Linked DNA regions of Homo sapiens. The protein of the gene in region 2 purifies or fractionates together with the protein of the main gene of each other region. This does not show direct contact. Each region holds a gene or a part of one and is shown on either strand. Other genes may lie near its edges.

What was found.
Region 1: the proteins of PPA1 (region 2) and ANXA5 purify together in Homo sapiens (affinity purification with mass spectrometry; 2 studies listed by BioGRID, with this or other methods). This does not show direct contact.
Region 3: the proteins of PPA1 (region 2) and SUCLG2 purify together in Homo sapiens (affinity purification with mass spectrometry; 2 studies listed by BioGRID, with this or other methods). This does not show direct contact.

What each region holds. Positions count from the first base shown.
Region 1 is NC_000004.12:121,679,692-121,687,126, reverse strand, and holds part of ANXA5 (annexin A5), read left to right. Parts: intron 1-754; coding exon 755-839; intron 840-2,355; coding exon 2,356-2,450; intron 2,451-3,649; coding exon 3,650-3,763; intron 3,764-5,365; coding exon 5,366-5,456; intron 5,457-6,318; coding exon of another isoform or gene 6,319-6,371; exon of another isoform or gene 6,372-7,435. UniProt on the Homo sapiens protein: This protein is an anticoagulant protein that acts as an indirect inhibitor of the thromboplastin-specific complex, which is involved in the blood coagulation cascade.
Region 2 is NC_000010.11:70,202,430-70,209,864, forward strand, and holds the end of PPA1 (inorganic pyrophosphatase), read right to left. Parts: intron 7,257-7,435; coding exon 7,129-7,256; intron 6,862-7,128; coding exon 6,776-6,861; intron 3,905-6,775; coding exon 3,835-3,904; intron 2,487-3,834; coding exon 2,444-2,486; intron 758-2,443; coding exon 726-757; 3' UTR 406-725; downstream 1-405.
Region 3 is NC_000003.12:67,374,011-67,378,839, forward strand, and holds the end of SUCLG2 (succinate--CoA ligase [GDP-forming] subunit beta, mitochondrial isoform 2 precursor), read right to left. Parts: intron 2,496-4,829; coding exon of another isoform or gene 2,452-2,495; exon of another isoform or gene 1,850-2,451; coding exon 1,734-1,849; 3' UTR 709-1,733; downstream 1-708. UniProt on the Homo sapiens protein: GTP-specific succinyl-CoA synthetase functions in the citric acid cycle (TCA), coupling the hydrolysis of succinyl-CoA to the synthesis of GTP and thus represents the only step of substrate-level phosphorylation in the TCA.

The DNA.
Region 1 (7,435 bases), on a different chromosome or scaffold from region 2:
AACGTGTTAGCCAGGATGGTCTCGGATCTCCTGACCTTGTGATCCGCCTGCCTCAGCCTCCCAAAGTGTTGGGATTACAGGCGTGAGCCACTGCGCCCAGCCGATATCACTAATTTTTTTTGAAATACGAAGATATTTTGGTTATTAAAAGCAGTGTATATATATGATAAAGTAATGTGTAACAGGAAGCTTTATGAAGAATGTCTTCCAATACACCTTTATAAAGTTCTAAATTCAAAGATTTGTATTCCTCTGGCACGTGAACGATCATTTCAGGCTTTGCTGGGTTATCGTAAAGTCCCTAAGTATGTATACAGAAACAGGACTTAGATCAAAAGGCACGTAACAAGAGCACTGCTTAAAATTGAGTACTCAGGATAGGGTATTAAGATTTAGTGCGGGCTCAGTATGCTTGTAGATCAAAATGGTGTGAGACTTAATGGGAAGGGAACCTGCAAAGATGTGCCCTCTGTGAACCAGGAGGTGTTGGTGGGGTTTCGTCACAGAGAAGAGGGAGCCAGCCTTCCCACTGATGGTATTACAGGTGATCAGGATAGCTTCTGTGCTGAATCGGCCATGCCAATTCCCATTGTAAATGGTTCCCTTCCCAGTTCAAAAGGGGTCACAAATCTTATCAAATGGTAAATTTATTTAATGACTGAATATGATATATAGCAAGCGGCTTCCTGTTTGTGTTATTTACTTTGTCATATTAGTCATGATATGAATAATACCACTGTGTTTCGTGAATTAGGTTCTCAGAGGCACTGTGACTGACTTCCCTGGATTTGATGAGCGGGCTGATGCAGAAACTCTTCGGAAGGCTATGAAAGGCTTGGGTAAATTTAGCTTCCTCTTTCTAAAGCAAATGTGATATTTGTTTTTCCAAACAAGTCATTAATTACAGTAAGAATAATTTTAGAATATTTTGATCTGAAATCTGTAGGAGAAGAGATATGTTAAGATAACAAAATAATACTATAAACCAGAGTGTCCAGTCTTTTGGCTTCTCTGGGCCACATTGGAAGAATTATCTTGGGCCACACATAAAATACACTAACAATAATGATAGCTGATGAGCTAAAAAAAAAAAAAAAGCAAAAAAATTTCATAATGTTTTCAGAAAGTTTATGAGTTTGTGTTAGGCTGCATTCAGAGCTGTCCTGGGCCACATGTGGCTTGCAGGCCATGGGTTGGACAAGCTTGCTATAAACCATCCCTAATATTCAGTCTCTAGAACTGAACAGGCAGTTAAATTCAGCCTCTGTGCTTTTGAGCTTGTCACCCTCACCTGTGTGGTAGAGGCCCGAGTCGATAAGGCAGCCATCCCTGCAGGTGGGCAGCTGTGCAGCTCTGTTCCCAATCAGATATCCCATTCTCATTCTGCTAGACTCTTCTCTTTCCCCAGCCTCTTTTCTAGTCATTTAAAAACCTCTCATCTCAAGGATTTCCATGTGTCACTGATCTCCTGTGCTCAGGCTCCTTTTGTACTACTGTTCATGTGCTTTCTGGCCCTGTAAGTCCTTCCATTGTATCCAGCCCACCTTTTCAGACTCATCTCCCATTACTGTTTAATGTGTTCTCAGACCCAACCATCCTGGCTTATCTGCTGTTTATGAAAGCCCTGTATTTCCCCACTGCTGAGCTTTTCTCTCATTCTAAACGCTGTCCTTCCTTTCGTCACTGCCTTTCACAATCCTTCCATCCTTCAATACTTGTGGGTGTCACCTTCTCCATGAATCATTCTCCAAGATTCCCTTCCACCTCCTATCAGCTAGGAGACCCTTCTTTGAGCCCCATTTAACACCTAGATCTCTCCTGAGGCACTTGTCACATTTTGCCTTAGCTCATACTTATTTGTGTGTTTTTAAAAAACTAGGTGCCCTAAGTTTTTTAAAAGGCAGAAGTATTTTTCCATCTACTTCACAATAGGTTGGGAATGGGGGGTAGAATATATTGGAAACGTAACATTTTATATATTGTAAATTTTTAATAAACTGTTTAATAAAACATTTATATATATGTGTGTATTTGCGTCTGTGTGTGTGTGTGTGTATATATATATGTGTGTGTGTATATATATATATATATACATATTTTTTTTTTTTCTAAGAGATGGGGGTCTCACTATGTTGACCAGGCAGGTCTTGAACTCCTGGCCTCAAGCAATCCTCCCATCTTGGCCTCCCAAAGAGCTAGGATTACAGATGTGAGCCACTGCGCCGGCCATAAAATATATTTTATATTCGCATAGGGAGAGGCAAGGAAATAAGGTGACTGGGAAGCGAGTTGCCAAGATCGTTGGGAGAGTATGCATGTAGGAGCCAAAATGTAATTGTTAACCATAAATTGCAGGCACAGATGAGGAGAGCATCCTGACTCTGTTGACATCCCGAAGTAATGCTCAGCGCCAGGAAATCTCTGCAGCTTTTAAGACTCTGTTTGGCAGGGTAAGACCACACTTCATCCCAAGAGAGAATGGGAGAACAGCTATCAGTTATAAGACTAGTTTGGAATATACTGATATTCTTTTGTAAGCATCATTTATTTTGTGATTCCGACTTCCCTACTTCTGTTTCTTTTCCACTCTCCTCTAAATTATCAGCTCTTAGGATACAGTGCTCACCCAGCTTATCCTCACATAATTGTTTTTCCTTGCCTAATGCTGTAGAGGTGCCAAAAGATCCTGTAGTGAGAACTGTCTCTCTTCTTTTCCTCTGTGTTTCCCACTCAGCATTCACATGGATGTCTTACTATCCATTTTCTAGGTGTAAGCCTGTATTAAAATATGTTTTGTTTTAACACAGTCACAGTCTTGGTTCCTTTTGTCATGATTTTAACTAATGGGTTTTTAATTAGTTGATTTAAATGCTTTTATTTGATTAATAATTCAAAAAAATTTATTTGAATTATTTAAATGAATTATTTGAATTATTTAAATTTAAATGAATTAGTGCATGCATGGAAAACTTAAATGTAGTCTTGTTATTCTGAAAACGTATGTCACTTAACTAAGGAAACAAGTGCAAAGCAAAAAAGAAAGTATTCTAAACACCATTTTTAGTTGTGTGGTATGCTGAAACTTATAGGTAGGAAATACTGTGTTTTTTTTTTCACAATTACATAATTTTTTCATAATTACATACACAATTTCCCCATAGGAACAGATATCTCCCAGTGGTCAGGAGTCATAACAATGACTATAATCTATTATGTGTTTGAATGTTATTACATATTGAGAGAAAAGAAAAAATTATTACGTTTGGGTATGAGAGACTAAATGTTGTCCTTTGTAAATTTCATTATATGATTATTTTTTGAAATTACAAAGAAGATATGTTTCTCAGAATAGTATTTTTATAAAATAGTTTTAGACTACTTTTAAAGGTATTCTTTTTTTTCAAGTTAAGAAAAACATCTTTTAGAAACAAATATCTTGACGTATAAGTGGGTTTGCTTTAGTTTAAGATTTTGGTCACAGGTTAAAAGTATGTTATTCAAGGTTATAGGGTTTTGTTTAGCTCATGGGCCTTCTACTTGGAGACAGCAACATAAAGAATTCATTAGAGCAAAGGACTGTCATTCATATTTAAGAAGAATCTTATTACAATTTCTGCTGGTTAACAAATTTGTATTTTCTGTGGGTTAGGATCTTCTGGATGACCTGAAATCAGAACTAACTGGAAAATTTGAAAAATTAATTGTGGCTCTGATGAAACCCTCTCGGCTTTATGATGCTTATGAACTGAAACATGCCTTGAAGGTAAAAAGGATGAGTGAAAGGAACATTCTTGCATAGATAGTATTATTTTGTTTTGGTAATTACTTCCTCTTATTTGTTATATTTAAAAAATTTTATCTGATTATTTCAGTGAGAGTTGCTTGGCAGACAAAACTGGGAGGCAATAAGCAGTAAAGGAGGGAGAAAATTACACGTGTGTCATTTCATCTTTTTGTAGATTTAAACTCAATAATACTGGGCTGTTTAAAATTTTCATATTTTTATAGCTTTTTGTATTTTATTTTCATGCCTGTCTTCTGATTTTGAGGATGTTTAAAAAATATTACAGATGAGCTATTTTATCTTTTTCAGTAGAAAATTGCCTGATTAGGGAACCATAATATTGCTCATCATTTTAGGTTAAAAGGTAAAGCTTCAGAGAGAATTTTCAAGATAAATATTTTCTCATACTCTTTCCTTCTTTCCTGCCCCTCTAAACACTAAAATGAAGTAGCTGGTAAACTTGCTATAATTTCAGTTGCAGCAAAAATTAAATATGTATTCCCTTGACTGGTGTTTGGAATGTTGTATAAATATGAAGGCATTGACACATTTGTTTAGGCTCATGGGACAGGAAGTAGTTCAGTTGTTAGCTGTTAGATTTTGAATGGGCACATTGAGATTTAACAAGGAAATAATGTTTCTCAGGGATTCTTACTGATGGAGTGGAGAGAGGAGAAGGGTCATCCTGATAGGAGCTGGTTTGTGCTCAGTCTCTTCATTTTCCTATGGTGATTCTTTTGGAATAAACAAAAATCTGAGGTTATTGAGAAAAGCACTTTTTTTGCTAAGTACTTCTGAAATGTCAGCAGTAGTTGAAATTCTGCCAGAGAATGAACTCTAGGTTTTTCAGTGCTTGATTTTTGGCAAAAAATAGAAATATAAAGAAAATAAGGCTTCAATATACTATCTTTTAAAAAAAATTAAGTCCAGCTATATCGTTGCATCTCTTAGTTTAATCATATAGATGTGATTTTTAAAAGCAGAAAAAGGAAAGCCAACTAAAATGATTTTTCAAAAATCCAGAAAGCAAGTCCCAATTCCTTTATACTGTTCTAATTCCTAATAATTAAGTATTGCTATATTTATTGTTACCTTTGATGTAGAATTTTCCTGTGACTGCACAGCACTTAACTTGGGGGTCAGGGGTTTATCTTTTGAGGTGCTTATTAAGTATCAGTGCTCTTCCATGTACATTTACGTGAAGTTTTCATTTTTACTCTTTCGGTTTTTAAAAAATTACTTCATGTTTCATGAAAATGTTTTACTTTTAAGCTAGAATTAACTGATCAAATTAAAAGTTACAAATTTATGTAACTGGTTATGTATACGTACACATATATACACACATACACATGATAAACATTGTTTTCCATTAGGCAAAAAGAATAAAATGGTCTTTGGAGAGAAAATCATTTAAAACTTGTTATTTCTATAACTAATAGAACTCATATACAAAGAAATCCATGTTATACTGGATAATATTTATATAACTATGCAATTTGGGTAACATCTATAACTTTCTTTTAATAACTTTCTTTTTAATCTTATTGACATGTTTTCTCTATTAAAATCTCCAAACAGGGAGCTGGAACAAATGAAAAAGTACTGACAGAAATTATTGCTTCAAGGACACCTGAAGAACTGAGAGCCATCAAACAAGTTTATGAAGAAGGTAAATGTTTGTGAGTTATATTTTGACTTCACCTCCACTATCACTTCCTTCATTTCTGTGATTTGAATGCAGTCCTTTGTAGGTATGGGAGGCACGCAGTAAATGATGGATGAATGAATGAATGAATGAATGACCTGCAATTCAAGCTATTTTTCTCCTTCAGTAAGGAAAAGACTGCCTTGTTATCCTCTACTATTTTCATATTTTATAAGAAGCTACTGCTGAAGATGGAGTTTACTTTTGCATAGGATTTGCAATTAGTGTAGGGATATACAGGTTGTCTTTATGTTAACATTAAGGTAAAAATGGTTTTTCCTCCTTTAAAAATATTTAGCTTTATGCTAGCAAAATTTAGGAGTTATATAAAAAGTACTTTTGGAACTTTGGAAGAGAAACCTAAACCCTTTCCCACATCAGAGTTGATAAAGTACATTTGAGTAAATGTATGTTGTCTTAGCTAATGGCAGTGCTTGAATAAAATATTCTGCATTTTGATTTTTCTTTTTAGTGTGTCTTTTATATGAACAGAAATCTGCATTTCGGCCTAAAATATGTCTCATGAATAGAATCAAGAAAATGAAGTAAAAAGTAGAGGTAGAGAGTCCTTTTCTTACCAGATTTCTTGTAGCCAACTCTTTCTCCTGCCTGACTGAGGAGGGTCAGACTATCCAGTTTCTCAGCTCAGTCAACAGACTCCAAGCCTAGTGTCTTTTGCTAGGGGCTGTATCTTGCCATTAGTTTGTTAATCTTAGAAATGGCTTTGTTAACCCAGCAAGTCAAAACAGCAAAAAATTGTTTAGAGCAACTGTATAATTACCTTTCTAAAGGGCTGAATCTCTCTTTCCTGCTTCTCTTTTTATAGGCAGTAAGTTCCCAACCGCTAAGGCAGAAGTGATACATGTATCTCAACTTTGAACTTTATTTGATGTACTATTCAAAGATCTCTTTCTGGGGATGTTGACGTTGATGAGAGCCTTTGTGCTACTGGATTACAAATGGTGTGCTCAAAGGGGGTAATAACTGTGTGGTCTGTCCTACTCAGCCGTGTAATTGAGCACTGGCTATGTGTCTGGCAGTGTGTTAACAGGCTGTCATGAGTGACAAAAGGTGTGCATAACACAGCTCCTGTCCTCAAGCAGTTTGTGTGCAGTCTCCTCAGTGGGTGACATGACAGAATGACTGCAATATTTAAAGGATAATGAAATTCAAACTAAAGTAAAATACCAATGATGTTAAATGCAATAATGCATTCAGAAGAGAGAGGTCATCATAGCTTTGGATGTTAGGGAGGCTTCATGGTACAAATCACACATGCAGCAGAGTTTCAAGACTAGGTGGGTTTACAAAGTGTCCATTGACAGATGAATAGATAAAGAATACGTACACACACACACACAAACACAGACACACACACACAGGAGTACTGTTCAGTCTTAAAGAGGGGAAATCCTGTCATTTCAACATCATGGATAAACGTGGAGGACATAATGCAAAGTGAAATAAGCTAGGCACAAGGCATAAGCTATGCATGATCTCACTTCTTATGTTGAATCTAAAAAAATTGAACTCATAGAAACAGATAGTAAAACAGTGTTTGCTAGGGTGTAGGGGTGGGGTGAATGGGAGAAGGGACTGGTGAAATATTGGTCAAAGCATACACGATTTTAGTTAGGCAGGATGAATAAGTTCTGGGGATCTCATGAACAGCGTGGTGACTATAGTGAAAGTATAACTATTATATGCTTGAAATTTGTGAATACAGTATATTTTAAATGTCCTCACCACACACAAAAATATAGACTATATGAAGTGATGGATATGCTGATTAACTTGATTGTGGTAATCATTTCACAACGTACACATATATGAAAACATCATGGTGTATACCTTAAATATATACAATTTTTATTTGTCCATCATAACTCAATAAAGCTGGGAAAAAAAGACTAGGTGCATTTTGAGTAGGTAGAAAAGATATT
Region 2 (7,435 bases):
GAGTGGTTGGTAAACTGACTTAAGATTACAGAGCTAGTAAGAAGATGGGCTGGCATTCAAACTGGTTTGTTCAGCTGATAACTTAGAATATAATATAAATGACTTAAGCGTCCAATTAGTTGACTGAAGAAGTAAAAAAATAACTATTAATATATAACTTCAAAGGGTGAGCAACATTGTGCTTTCTGCTAATATGATATAAATTTAAAAACTTTTGCTTTAGAATGGTATGCTAGGACTTATGTACTAGAGCATAGTATCAAGAGTACTATAAATATAAGCGATTTCTTCGTCTAATAATTATAAATTTGAATTATAAGACTATCAACAGAAAACAAACACCAAAAAATACCCATACCTACTTAATGTTGGCTTCAGATTAAAATAAAAATATCCTAAGCCAAGTTTCAGCAAAATAATTTTATTTCCTAACATATGGTAACATATACATCCAATATGTGCTCCCCTTGCACATCTATTCACAAGTGACTTCCAAATGACAACTGCTTTGATATTTAAGCATGTGCTAAAAGTTATCTTAGTTGAGATATGAAAAATGCTTTAGATGGATAACATTCTGAGTATATTGGATTAGTCACAGCAGAATTTACTTTAGTTAGATGAGTTCTACAAATTTAAAGCTTTGAAAAGCTACTACTTTTACTTCTAATACATCCAGATGAACACGATGTAGCAATATCAGCTTGTATTCCAGAGAAATCTCATTAGTTTTTCTGGTGATGGAACCACTTATCCACTGTATTCAGAGAAAAGAAAAACAAATTAGAATTCCTGTTGAGAATCAAAAATACACCTAACATATAACAAAGACTAATATACTTGCTTTAATGAATCCTACTATGAATTACCTGAAAATTAACAGGCATACATACAAAATTTCTCTACAGCAAATGCAGGTGTTTTCTTTTGGGCTTCCTTACACTTCATGCTAATTGCATAGTGTGATTTTCAAACTTTTTTTTTTAATTTCGAGACAGGGTCTCACTCTCTTGCCCAGATTGCAGTGCAGTGGCAGCAATCATGGCTCACTGCAACCTCCATCTTCCAGGTTCAAGCAATTCTCGTGCCTCAGTCTCCCCAGCAGCTGGTATTACAGACGTGTGCCACCACATCTAGCAAATTTTTGTATTTTTTTTTTGTAGAGACATGGTTTCTCCATGTTGGCCAGGCTGGTCTCGAACTCCTGGGCTCAAGTGATCCGCCCGCCTCAGCCTCCCAAAGTGCTGGGATGACAGGTGTGAGCCACCACACCCAGCCTTCAAACTTGTTTTTTTAAGTGGCAGAATCATTTTCTTACCAGAAAAATCTTACAGAGAATTCTGACATCTAAGGAGGAGAGAACTGTTTTCTGGGTGAAGCAGCCTGTGGCCAGGTGGGAATGTGGAGATCAGCCCACTCAGGGTCCCCTCCAGTGTCCAGCGGGCACCTCCATGGAACTCAGAGGGGCACAATGGGTCATGGTTTGGAAACCACTGTGATACAGTGTGGCACTAAAGGTGGTATGTAGCAGCTCATCTTCCTTCCCACGTACACTACAGAATTCTAAAAATGCTTCTCTTCTCACCCTTCTTCCCTCTCTTCCTGTGTATGTTAAAAATATGTACGTGGCTGCGTGCAGTGGCTCACGCCTGTAATCCTAGCACTTTGGGAGGACAAGGTAGGTGGATCGCCAGCCTGGGTGACATGGCGAAACCCGGCCTGATTAGTGTTCAAGACCAGCCTGGTTCGAGACCTGGTTTGAGACCAGCTTGGGCAACATGGTGAAACTCTATCTCTACAAATTATAAAAAAATTAGACAGGTATGGTGGCACATGTCTGCAGTCCCAGCTATTTGGGAGGCTGAGATGGGAGAATCACTTTAACTTGGGGGGGTTACGGGTACAATGAGCTGTGATTGTGCCCCTGCACTCCAGCCTGGGTGACAGAGTGACAGCCTGGGTGACTCTGTGTCAAAAAACAAAAAACAAGCCAGGTACAGAAAGACAAATACCACATGATCTCATTTATATGTGCAATATAAAAAAGGTAAATTCATAGAGGTAGAGAGTAGAATGGTGGTTGCCAGGAGCTGAAGGATGGGGAAAGGGCAGGCGATGGTCAAAGGGTACCAAGTTTTAGTTAGACAAAAGGAATAAGCTTTAGTGATCTATTGCACAGGATGGTGACTGTAACATCTATTTCAAAATTGCTAAGAGTAGATTTCAAATGTTTTTACCACACAACAAATAATGATTAAGTATGTGAGGTAATGATTTCGTAATTAGCCAGATTTAATCATTCCACATTGTAAACATATATCAAAACATCACACTGTACCCATAAATATATTTAATTATCATTTGTCAACTAAAAATAAAAGTAACATAATTTTTCCATAACTGTGTAATGTTTAATGAAATTTTACTGGAATAGAAATCTTACCGTCTGTTGGTACTGTGCAGGCAGATTCACAGGGTGGTGGTAACTAAAATATAAAATATTAAAATCTATTAGTCTAATCTCATTTTTTAAAAAGCTAAAAAGGTATACTGACAAAAATTTAAGAGAATCTGAAGACTATCCCAAATTTTAGGATCTAAACGTAATTTATAATATATAGGAACAATAGAAGGTTTGCTCTACTGCTGAGATGCTAACAAATTCAAGCCTCTTGGACAGTGCAGTGGCTCATGCCCATAATCCCAACACTTCGGGAGGCTGAAGTGGGTGGATCACAAGGTCAGGAGTTCAAGACCAGCCTGGCCAAGATGGTGAAACCCCGTCTCTACTAAAAATAAAAGCTGGGCATGGTGGCGGGCACCTGTAATCCCAGCTGCTCGGGAGGCTGAGGCAGAGAACCGCTTGAACCTGGGAGGCGGAGGTTGCAGTAAGCTGAGATTGCGCCACTGCACTCCAGTCTGGGCAACAGAGCGAGACTTGTCTCAAAAAAAAAAAAAAAAATTCAAGCCTCTTGACTTTTTATGACATGCAGAATAATAAGAATGTTTTTTGAAATAATAAAAACTGATTTATGCATATATAACAATTTTATATATACACACATATTTATAAAATATGGGCAGTGTTCTCACTGAAAAATTATAATAGTTAACCACTGGCTTTTCCCTTATAATTTTTCTTATTTATCTCAACTTTGTCGGGATTCATACATAAATAAAGATAAAACTAAATGTACTGGTTTCATCATTAAATTGTCCTTTTTTCCTTGTTCTACCCCATTTACAAGGCAGTAAAAAAGTCAGACCTCATTTTCTTTTGTTTTCCTTATTTAATATTATAAATGAAAATAATTTAAGATGATCTCGTTCAATTTTTTGGTTAATCCAAACCAAATAATTAAAAATAGTACAAAAACAAAATTATTGCTTTGACGGGTGCTTTTACTACCTCACATGAAAGCCTTTCTTAGATTATGAATCATTCCTGCAATGGTACCTAAAACTTGATACCTTCCTCAGTCCTTGCTAGAACCAAGTCAAGTAAATTCCCATTGATTCTTTTGCGGAAATGGCTTATGATGGGTCATAGGCACACAGGTTACTTGGTACATTCTGGAACCATTCTGATTTTTACAAATCTTACTACCATGCTATCTGTCCAACTTATGATTGATTAGAATCACTCCCTCAGCTTCTCCCTCAGTCAAATGGCCACTTGCATGTGTTCATGGTTTCTAATTTCAAGACTCCACACAGTAACATGCATACAAAAGGCACTCAAGTATTTGTCGAAACAAGTACTTCCTCTCCCCATTTAGCATCATAGTTTTTAGCAACCAGGCTTGTTTTTTTTTTAAGGAAACTTTTACATACAGCATCCACAATGGCTCTGGCAGCATCAGGATCACACTTGAAGGGGCTCTCAGACAAAGTTGTATTCATGCTATTAAATAAAACAAAAGTAGTCATAAGACAAAATAACAAAAATTATCTCTTAAGAGTTAAAAAATGAGTTGAAAGTGGTTGACCAGGTGATATTCAAGTTTAGTTTAGTCGAAAGCTTTTTCACCTACATTTAACATTCTAATTATGTATTTTGGCAAGGCATAGCTATTCTTGTGATCAATTTTATTCAAATATCTTAACAAGTTCGGATTTAAGAAACTGAGATTGGGCTAGGTGTGGTGGCTCATGCCTGTAATTCCAGCACTTTGGGAGGCTGAGGCAGGCGGATCATGAGGTCAAGAGATCGAGACCATCCTGGCCAACACGGTGAAACCCCATCTCTACTAAAAATACAAAAATTAGCCGGGCATGGTGGCGCATGCCTGTAGTCCCAGCTACTCGGGAGGCTGAGGCAGGAGAATCGCTTGAATCTGGAAGGCGGAGATTTCAGTCAGCTGAGATCGCGCCACTGCACTCCAGCCTGGTGACAGAGCAAGACTGCGTTGCAATAAGGAGGAGAGGAGAGGAGAGGAGGGGAGGGGAGGGGAGGGGAGGGGAGGGGAGGAGAGGACGAAAGAAACTGAGATTGAATGCTTTGTAATTCTCACTGAAATAGCTAAGAAATGTGAATTGAGAAACATATCTTTCTTAATTGGAAAAAATAATGAAACAAAAAAAAACCCAGTTCCTGTAGTGTTGGTGAGACATCTGAAACAGACACTTCTGGCAGGAGTCCTGGTTCAATCTTTCTGAAAAATATTTCTGTAAAATGTATCCAAAACCTTTTAAAAAGCTCATAGGTCTTGATAGAGAAATTCCACCTCTAAGAACCCAATCCAATACTGAAACGGTAATTTACAAAGGTGTTTACCATATACTATTTCACTATTAATAGTGGTGAAAAATTGGAAGTAACCAAAATGTCCAATAATAAGAAATGATTAAAAATAGTTTATCCTTCTTTGCAGGGATTTAAAAATAAAAAGGTTTATCCATAAAACATATTATACAGAGATGGAATATTATATTATTAAAATATGATATTTCTAGACTAGGCATGGTGGCTCGCATCTGTAGTCTAAGCACTTTTGGAGGCTGAGGTGTGAGAGGATCACTTAAAGCCAGGGGGTCAAGATCAGCCTGGACAACACAGCAAGACACTGTCTCTACAACAAATTTAAAAATCATCTGGGAGTGGTGATGCGTGCCTGTAGTACCCAGCTACTTGGCAGGCTGAGACAGAAGGATCACTTCTTTGAGGTTACAGTGAGCTATTATAGTAACACTGCACTTCAGCCTGGGCGAGAGACCCTGTCTCTAAAAAAAAAATTATATCTTTTATGACATGAGGAAATGCTTATTACATAGTGTTAAATTTTAAAAATCGTAAGACAAGTCGTGTATATAATACAATCCTAATATGTTTTTTGGGTTTTTTTAGCCCACTTTAGTCTAAAATATGGATCATGTTTTAAAAATACATTTTATTTTTGTTTATCCGTAGTTCAAGTTTTCCTATATATTAGTCATTATAGTACTAATATAATATGTGCCCAATTAGAAATATTCCATCAAGGCCGGGTGTGGTGGCTCACGCCTGTAATCCCACCACTTTGGGAGGCCGAGGCGGGCAGATCATGAGTCAGAGGTTCGAGACCAGCCTGGTTAACACGGCAAAACCCCGTCTCTACTAAAAATACAAAAATTAGCCGGGCGTGGTGGCATGCGCCTGTAATCCCAGCTACTCAGGAGGCTGAGGCAGGAGAATCTCTTGAATCCGGGAAGCGGAGGTTGCAATGAGCCGAGATCATGCCATTGCACTCCAGCCTGGGCAACAAGAGCAAGACTCTGTCTCAGAAAACAACAACAACAAAGAAATACACCATCAAAATGAAAAATGAATCATCTTTGCTGACCTGTTATTTAACATACATTAAGACCATTTTCATAGAAATCGTAAGATACGAAAAAATAGAGAAGTTAACTTAAAAGCCAAATCTTTTTCCTTTTTTTTTTCTTTTGAGACAGGGTCTTGCTCAGGTGCCCCAGTTGGAGTGCAGTGGGGCAATCACAGCTCACTGCAGCCTTGATCTCCAAGGCTCAAGTGATCTTCCCACCTCAGCCTTGCTACAGGCAAGCGCCACCATGCCTGGCTAATTTTTTTTTAATTTTTAGTAGAGATGAGGTCTCACTATGTTGCCCCCACCAGTCTCCAATTCCTGAGTTCAAGTGATCCTCCTGCCTCAGCCTCCTAAAGTGCTGGAATTACAGGAATGAGCCATATAGCACCCAGACAAATGCCAACTCTTAGGACTGTACATTTTTACACATATAACTCTTCTCCATTTTTCTTCTGTTTGTTGGAAGGACAATGTTTTCATTTTATAGGACATTATCCTGACACAGAATAGAAGATTTCTGGGAGAATTATTTTTGTACATTGGCTGTTTCTCGTACTCTTTTTTTTTTTTTTTTGAGACCGAGTCTCGCTCTGTCGCCCAGGCTGGAGTACAGTGGTACGATCACGGCTCACTGCAGCTTCAACCTCCCCAGGCTCAGGTGATCCTCCCAACTCAGCCTCCCAGGTAGCTAGGACTACAGGTATGTACCACCATGCCCAGCTAATTTTTGTACTTTTTGTAGAGACAGGGTTTTTCCATGTTGTCCAGGCTGGTCTTCAACTCCTGGGCTCAAGCAATCCATCCACCTTGGCTTCCCAAAGTGCTGGAATGACAGGTGTGAGCCACCGCACCCAGCCTTGTATCTCTTTTCTAAGTGAAAGTAACAGTACAGTGTCTTATGATTATTAAAACCTTTTCTGCAAGCTGGTCTGCTTTGTGTGTTAAACATGCAAAGTGTTTACACTTACCAACTGATTCCTTTTCCATTCGTTTTCTTAGTCACTAATGCTTTCCAATGGTCATGAGTGCTTTTAATAATATCAATGGCAAAGTCCTATAATTTGAAGAGGTTTGCATTACAATGATAAAAAGGTATTATTTTCCTATTATCAACATTTCCCCAAAGCCTGATACTTTGTCTCTTCTGAATCATTTCCTTATTCTAAAAATGGAAGAGAATATTAAAGTGAATAAATAAACACCAAGACTGTGTTATGTTTCCAGACTTCTGTTTTGTGAATCTTTAGATGGTAACAATATGGTTAAATTATGAGTCTCAATACAAATGAGCCTAAAGCTACAGTTCTGAATGACATATTACCTTATCTTTAAATTCTGCATTAAACGCAAACTCATTTTCTGGTTTTCCATCAGGAACCTTATACCTTCTAAACCAGTCCACAGTAGCTTCTAAGTAGCCAGGTTTCAGCCGTTTGACATCATTGATATCTAAGAAGAGAAGAAGCATAAGATGACAGTGAGAATGATTTTTTTAAAAAGAAAGAAGAGAATAAGCAGATTTCAAGATGCACAAATAATTATACACTCAACAAAAATTCCAAGTACTTATTTTGAAAGAGCTGTGGAATGACTTATCACGGAAGTTCAAGATAACATTGGAGCGAAGC
Region 3 (4,829 bases), on a different chromosome or scaffold from region 2:
CAAATTGGGTTGACTGGAAACATCAATATTTACAAGTGATTCAAACATAGTCCTCTTCAGAGATCAAAAATTTAAAAATGTTGTCTAGTTGACATAATATAGGTTATTTTTTTTACTGCACCAACTAGTGATTAAGCTATCAAAAACCAAAACACAACTAAGAAGACATTGTTAATATTCTTCATTCATTGCATGGGCATTAAGAAAGGATGTAAGACTGATCTATCCAATAGTTTATTTCTCCATGGCAAACATGGCTCTAAACAATAATGACTTTCATACTTTTGTCCACACATAAAATTTATGAGAACAAAGTAAGCTGGTAAAAAAAACAAACAAAATAGTTTGGTCTACTACATATTTATACACTGAAAGGAAAATTAATGGTGGCAATTGAGCCTCACTTAATGGAATGAGTTATACTGGAGTATCTCCCTTTGCGTTACGCAGACTGACATCACAGTTCAACCTGTCAGACATCTGAGATACATTCCTGGGGTTCTGGTTTGTGTATAACTTTTATGGATTCAATAATCTCCTAACACAGAAATGGGTATCTGATAAAGTTGAGTGGAACTGGAATAATCCTGGAATGACCCAAATTATCAAATTTTAGAGGCATACCTAAGACACTAAGACTAGTGTCTTTGTAAAAAAAAAAAATGTTTGAGGAATAAAATTGAGTAAAATGAGAGATACACACAGATCTTACAGCTTACAAAACATAATTTTATTTAAATTTGTATAGATAAAAATCTACCAAAATTTAAACAAAAATTTTATCCAAATCCTTTCCCACAACAAAATTGGACATCATGGAAAAAAAAAACACATTCAAATAAGGTTCCCATCTTTCTACCATAAACTGGTAGATTCTGGGAGGATGAGGAGTAAGAGAGAAACGAGGAGAGAAGATAGTGATACTAAACACAATTTGATCTTCAGTGTTGTCTCATCTTGAAATATCTTAATAACAGAGATTTCCATAAGAATCAGGATTCATTTTTGACACAAAAATGGAAGCTTCCACTCCCAAAATCACAAATAAGGCTTCTGGTTTTCTTTTTAGTGTGAGGTAAACAGTATATTCAATATTAAGGCAAATGGTAAAAACACATGGATGGTATATTAATGCAGATATTCCATTATTAAATATATTTTGGAATACTCACGGATTTTTCAAACATATGTTAGAATTAGAAACCTGTAAAATCTGCAGTAGTGTGTAATAGCTATTTGCTTGAATGTCTTAGCAGTGCCTTTTTAGTAGCTAATATGTTCAGTGTAATCTTATGCCTTTTTAGTAATTAATATATTAAATATAATCTTGTCTGAGTTTTTAAATGGTCTGTTTTTCTTTTTCATTATGTAGGATTAGATGCCCACCAAAATTCTTGTAAATGAAGCAGGACTTGATTTCAAATTCTGTCTATACACACAATATTTGGCCACATAGACCACTCCCCAAAGTCTGCAAAACACTGCCTACTGGGCAGGCTTACAGTGACAGAAAAGTATGAGAACACAAGATATTATTTTTATAAAGACCAAAATCAGATTTAGGCTGTCTAGATATCTTATTCCAGAAAACACAGATTTAAGATTTTTCAGTGATTCTTGCCTTCCCCCTCCCCTTTTCTTCCCCAATGAGATAACCATTTCTTTCACAATGATGAACCATCCCTTTTTACGGAAAAATGGCTTTCTTTCTCCATTGGATCAGGACAAAGACATCACTTCTTGGCCACACTGGCCACAGCCTTCTTGGCTGCATCCTCCAGGTCAATGGCTGAAGTAATGGGGAGTCCGCTGTTGTTGAGTATCTTCTGGGCCTCTTGGACGTTGGTTCCTAGAAGGGGGACAGGGAACAATCACTGAATGAAACTAGAGGTGGCGCCTTATGAAGTTTGCACAAGGACACACAAGACTCACCTGTCTACAGCTTTTCACTAGGAAATGAATTAAATATAGGTTCTCATCAAGGTCACTGACAGAAAAGATTATGTGATGAAATTTATCTCAAGCTGTGGTCCAGCTAGAAAAGAAGATGAAAGCAAGGGCTTGCAAGAGGGAAATGAACATATTTTACTGATGGAAGCTGAGTTGTCTGCTGATAATCACAGCCATGTGGATTTAATGCGGTTTTGGCCCACACCAGAAGTCACTTGTCTTAAAGCCCTCTCAGACGTCATCAGGGGTTTGGGCTGTGACCTGATTTGAGAAAGGAAGTTCCGAGAATCTGCCCAGCTATGTCCACAAATCCACTGCTTTGGAGACTCTGGCGCATCCAGCATGTCCATTTCTGCCTTCTCCTCACTCTATAAAATGAAATGGGCTGAGCCCTTCAAAACGGGCAAAGCAGCCTCTGATGGCAATCTCTTGACTGTTCCTGGTGGATCTGGAGTATCTTCTGGCCAAGTCACTTCATTCAAAGGTGTGCTTGGGGACTATTTAACATGAGAACTGCTTTTCTGCCATTTTAGAGTGAACAACTCCTGTAGGAGAAATGTAATAGAATTTAAGTGTCTAATGAAATATCTCATCCTACATCATTTCCTGTGCTTTTATCTAGTTGGCAAGACAGAGCCTATTTATAAACAAAGACCTTGAAATATAGGCCTTGGAGAACTTGCCTTACCACAAAGAGTGCAGATAAAAAGAGGCACTGGGTCAGCACATTTCATATAAAGAGGCAAATGCTGGATTAAATAGAAATGGGTGGATTGAAAAGATGATGCAGCACTGATTCCCCTGGGACCCTGGGTCTACCCAAGCAGCAGTGAAGATGGCCGCTTGGCACTGTGTCTTCACCTTAAGGCTCACCTACTCCTGTTTTTACAGAGGAAGCTGGTGAAAGTCCTCTCTGGAAGGTGAAAGCATAAAATGTGGGAAGCTGCTACCTAAAATCTCCATGCTGGCTCTGCCATGTACTTGTTATGTAGTTTTGGGTAAATCGTTTAACTTCTTTGAGCCTTAACTTTTGTTTCCATACAGAGCACTATCATCCTCGTAATCTTCCCAAGAACTAATATCATTAAGTGCTTATGTATGCCAGGCACAGTGCTAAGTAACTTATACACAGCATATGAAATCTTTACAAAAACTATGAGTAGTCCTATTGTTCCTATTTTACAGATAAGGCAACTGAGGCACAGAGAAGTTAAATAACTTTTCCATGGTCACAGAGGCGGTAAGTGTCAGAGATGGGACTTGAACTGTTCTCTGTAATTATAAACGCTGCATGTTCTAAAGATATGCTAGTCTGCTTACCTACTTGAAAAATGAGGACAGTATAGCTGATGGTATAGATTGTGATGAGAAGCAAATGAAATGAGTGTAAAAGCATTTTTGTAAATGGTGCAGTATCTGTGGCAGGCCTGGCTGGCTTTGCACCACAGACTCCTGCTCCTCTTCTGCAGTAGAGTGCTATTGCTGGAAAGCAGCTGCCCAGCCAGAAACTACATTTCCCAGGCCCCCCTGCATCTCGAAGGGGACATGTGACTGAGTTCAGGCCAAAGGAATGTCACATGGCCATGACAATCTCCAAAGGGACTCTTCACACTCGGTTTTCCTTGTCTGCTTTCTGGAGTGTTCCTAGCTGGGGCAGCCCTGGAAGTCACCTTTTTGGTTCTGGTTGTGTTTTGTCTTGCTTTTTGTTTTTGAGATAGGCTCTCGCTGTGTCACCCAAGATGGAGTGCAGTGGTGTGATCTCAGCTCACTGCAGCCTCAGCCTCCGGTGCCCAAGTGATCCTTCTACCTCAGCCTCCCAAGTAGCTGAGACTAAAGGCACACATCACCACGCCCAGCTATTTTTTGTATTTTTTGTAGAGATGGGGTTTTTCCACATTGCCCAGGCTGGTCCTGAACTCCTAAACTCAAGGACTCCATCTGCCGTGGCCTCCCAAAATGCTGGGATTACAGGCATGAGCCCTTGCACCCAGCCAAATCACTTCTTGAAGATGGCAATGACTCCTTCAGCCTGGATACTTTAATAACTCTCTGGAGCCAAGCATCTTACCCACTCACCCTCTTAGACCTTATGGGAATGAGAAAGACCCTTCTATAATGTTAAGACTCTGAAATTTCTGCATTTTTCTGTTGTTACAGGAGCTAGCATTATTTTGACTAACATATGACTTTGTAAATGCTGTGGAAGGCAGCTTCTAAAATGGTTTTCAAAGATCAATCACTCTTGCCTCCTGGTAGTCACATCTTTGTAGAATCCGTCCCCCTTGAGTATGATCTGGACCCACAGCCTTACTTCTAATAGATAAGAACATGGCAAAAGTGATGGAGTGTCACTTCTGAGACTAGGTTACAAAAGCCTGTGGCTTCAGTCTTGCTCCCTTTAACTCTTTTTTCACTCTGATGAAGCAAACTACCCTGCTATGAGCTGCCCTCTGGAGAGACTCACCTGGGCAAGGAACTGAGGGCAAACTCTGGCCAACGGCTGATGAGGAACTGAGGCTCTGGGTCTAATAGCCAAGGAGGAAGTGCATCTGGCCAAGAACCATATAAGGGATCTTGGAAGCAAATTCTTCCCTAGTCAAGCCTTGAGATCACTACAGCTCGGCTGACACTGTGATTGCAGCCTTGTGAGAGACCCTGAGTGAGAGGATCCACCTAAGCCACACCCAGATTCCTGACCACAGAAACTGTGAGATAATAACTGTTCTTTTTGTTAAGCTGCTACATTTTGGGGTAATTTGTTAAGTGCTGATAGGTAAGTAACACAGATGTAAAAATGTATTATTTCATTAACACAACCTGCGTGCACTTTGATTCATTTGACTGTGGCAGGTGTTAGATAGCAGGCTAAGGAATTTAGA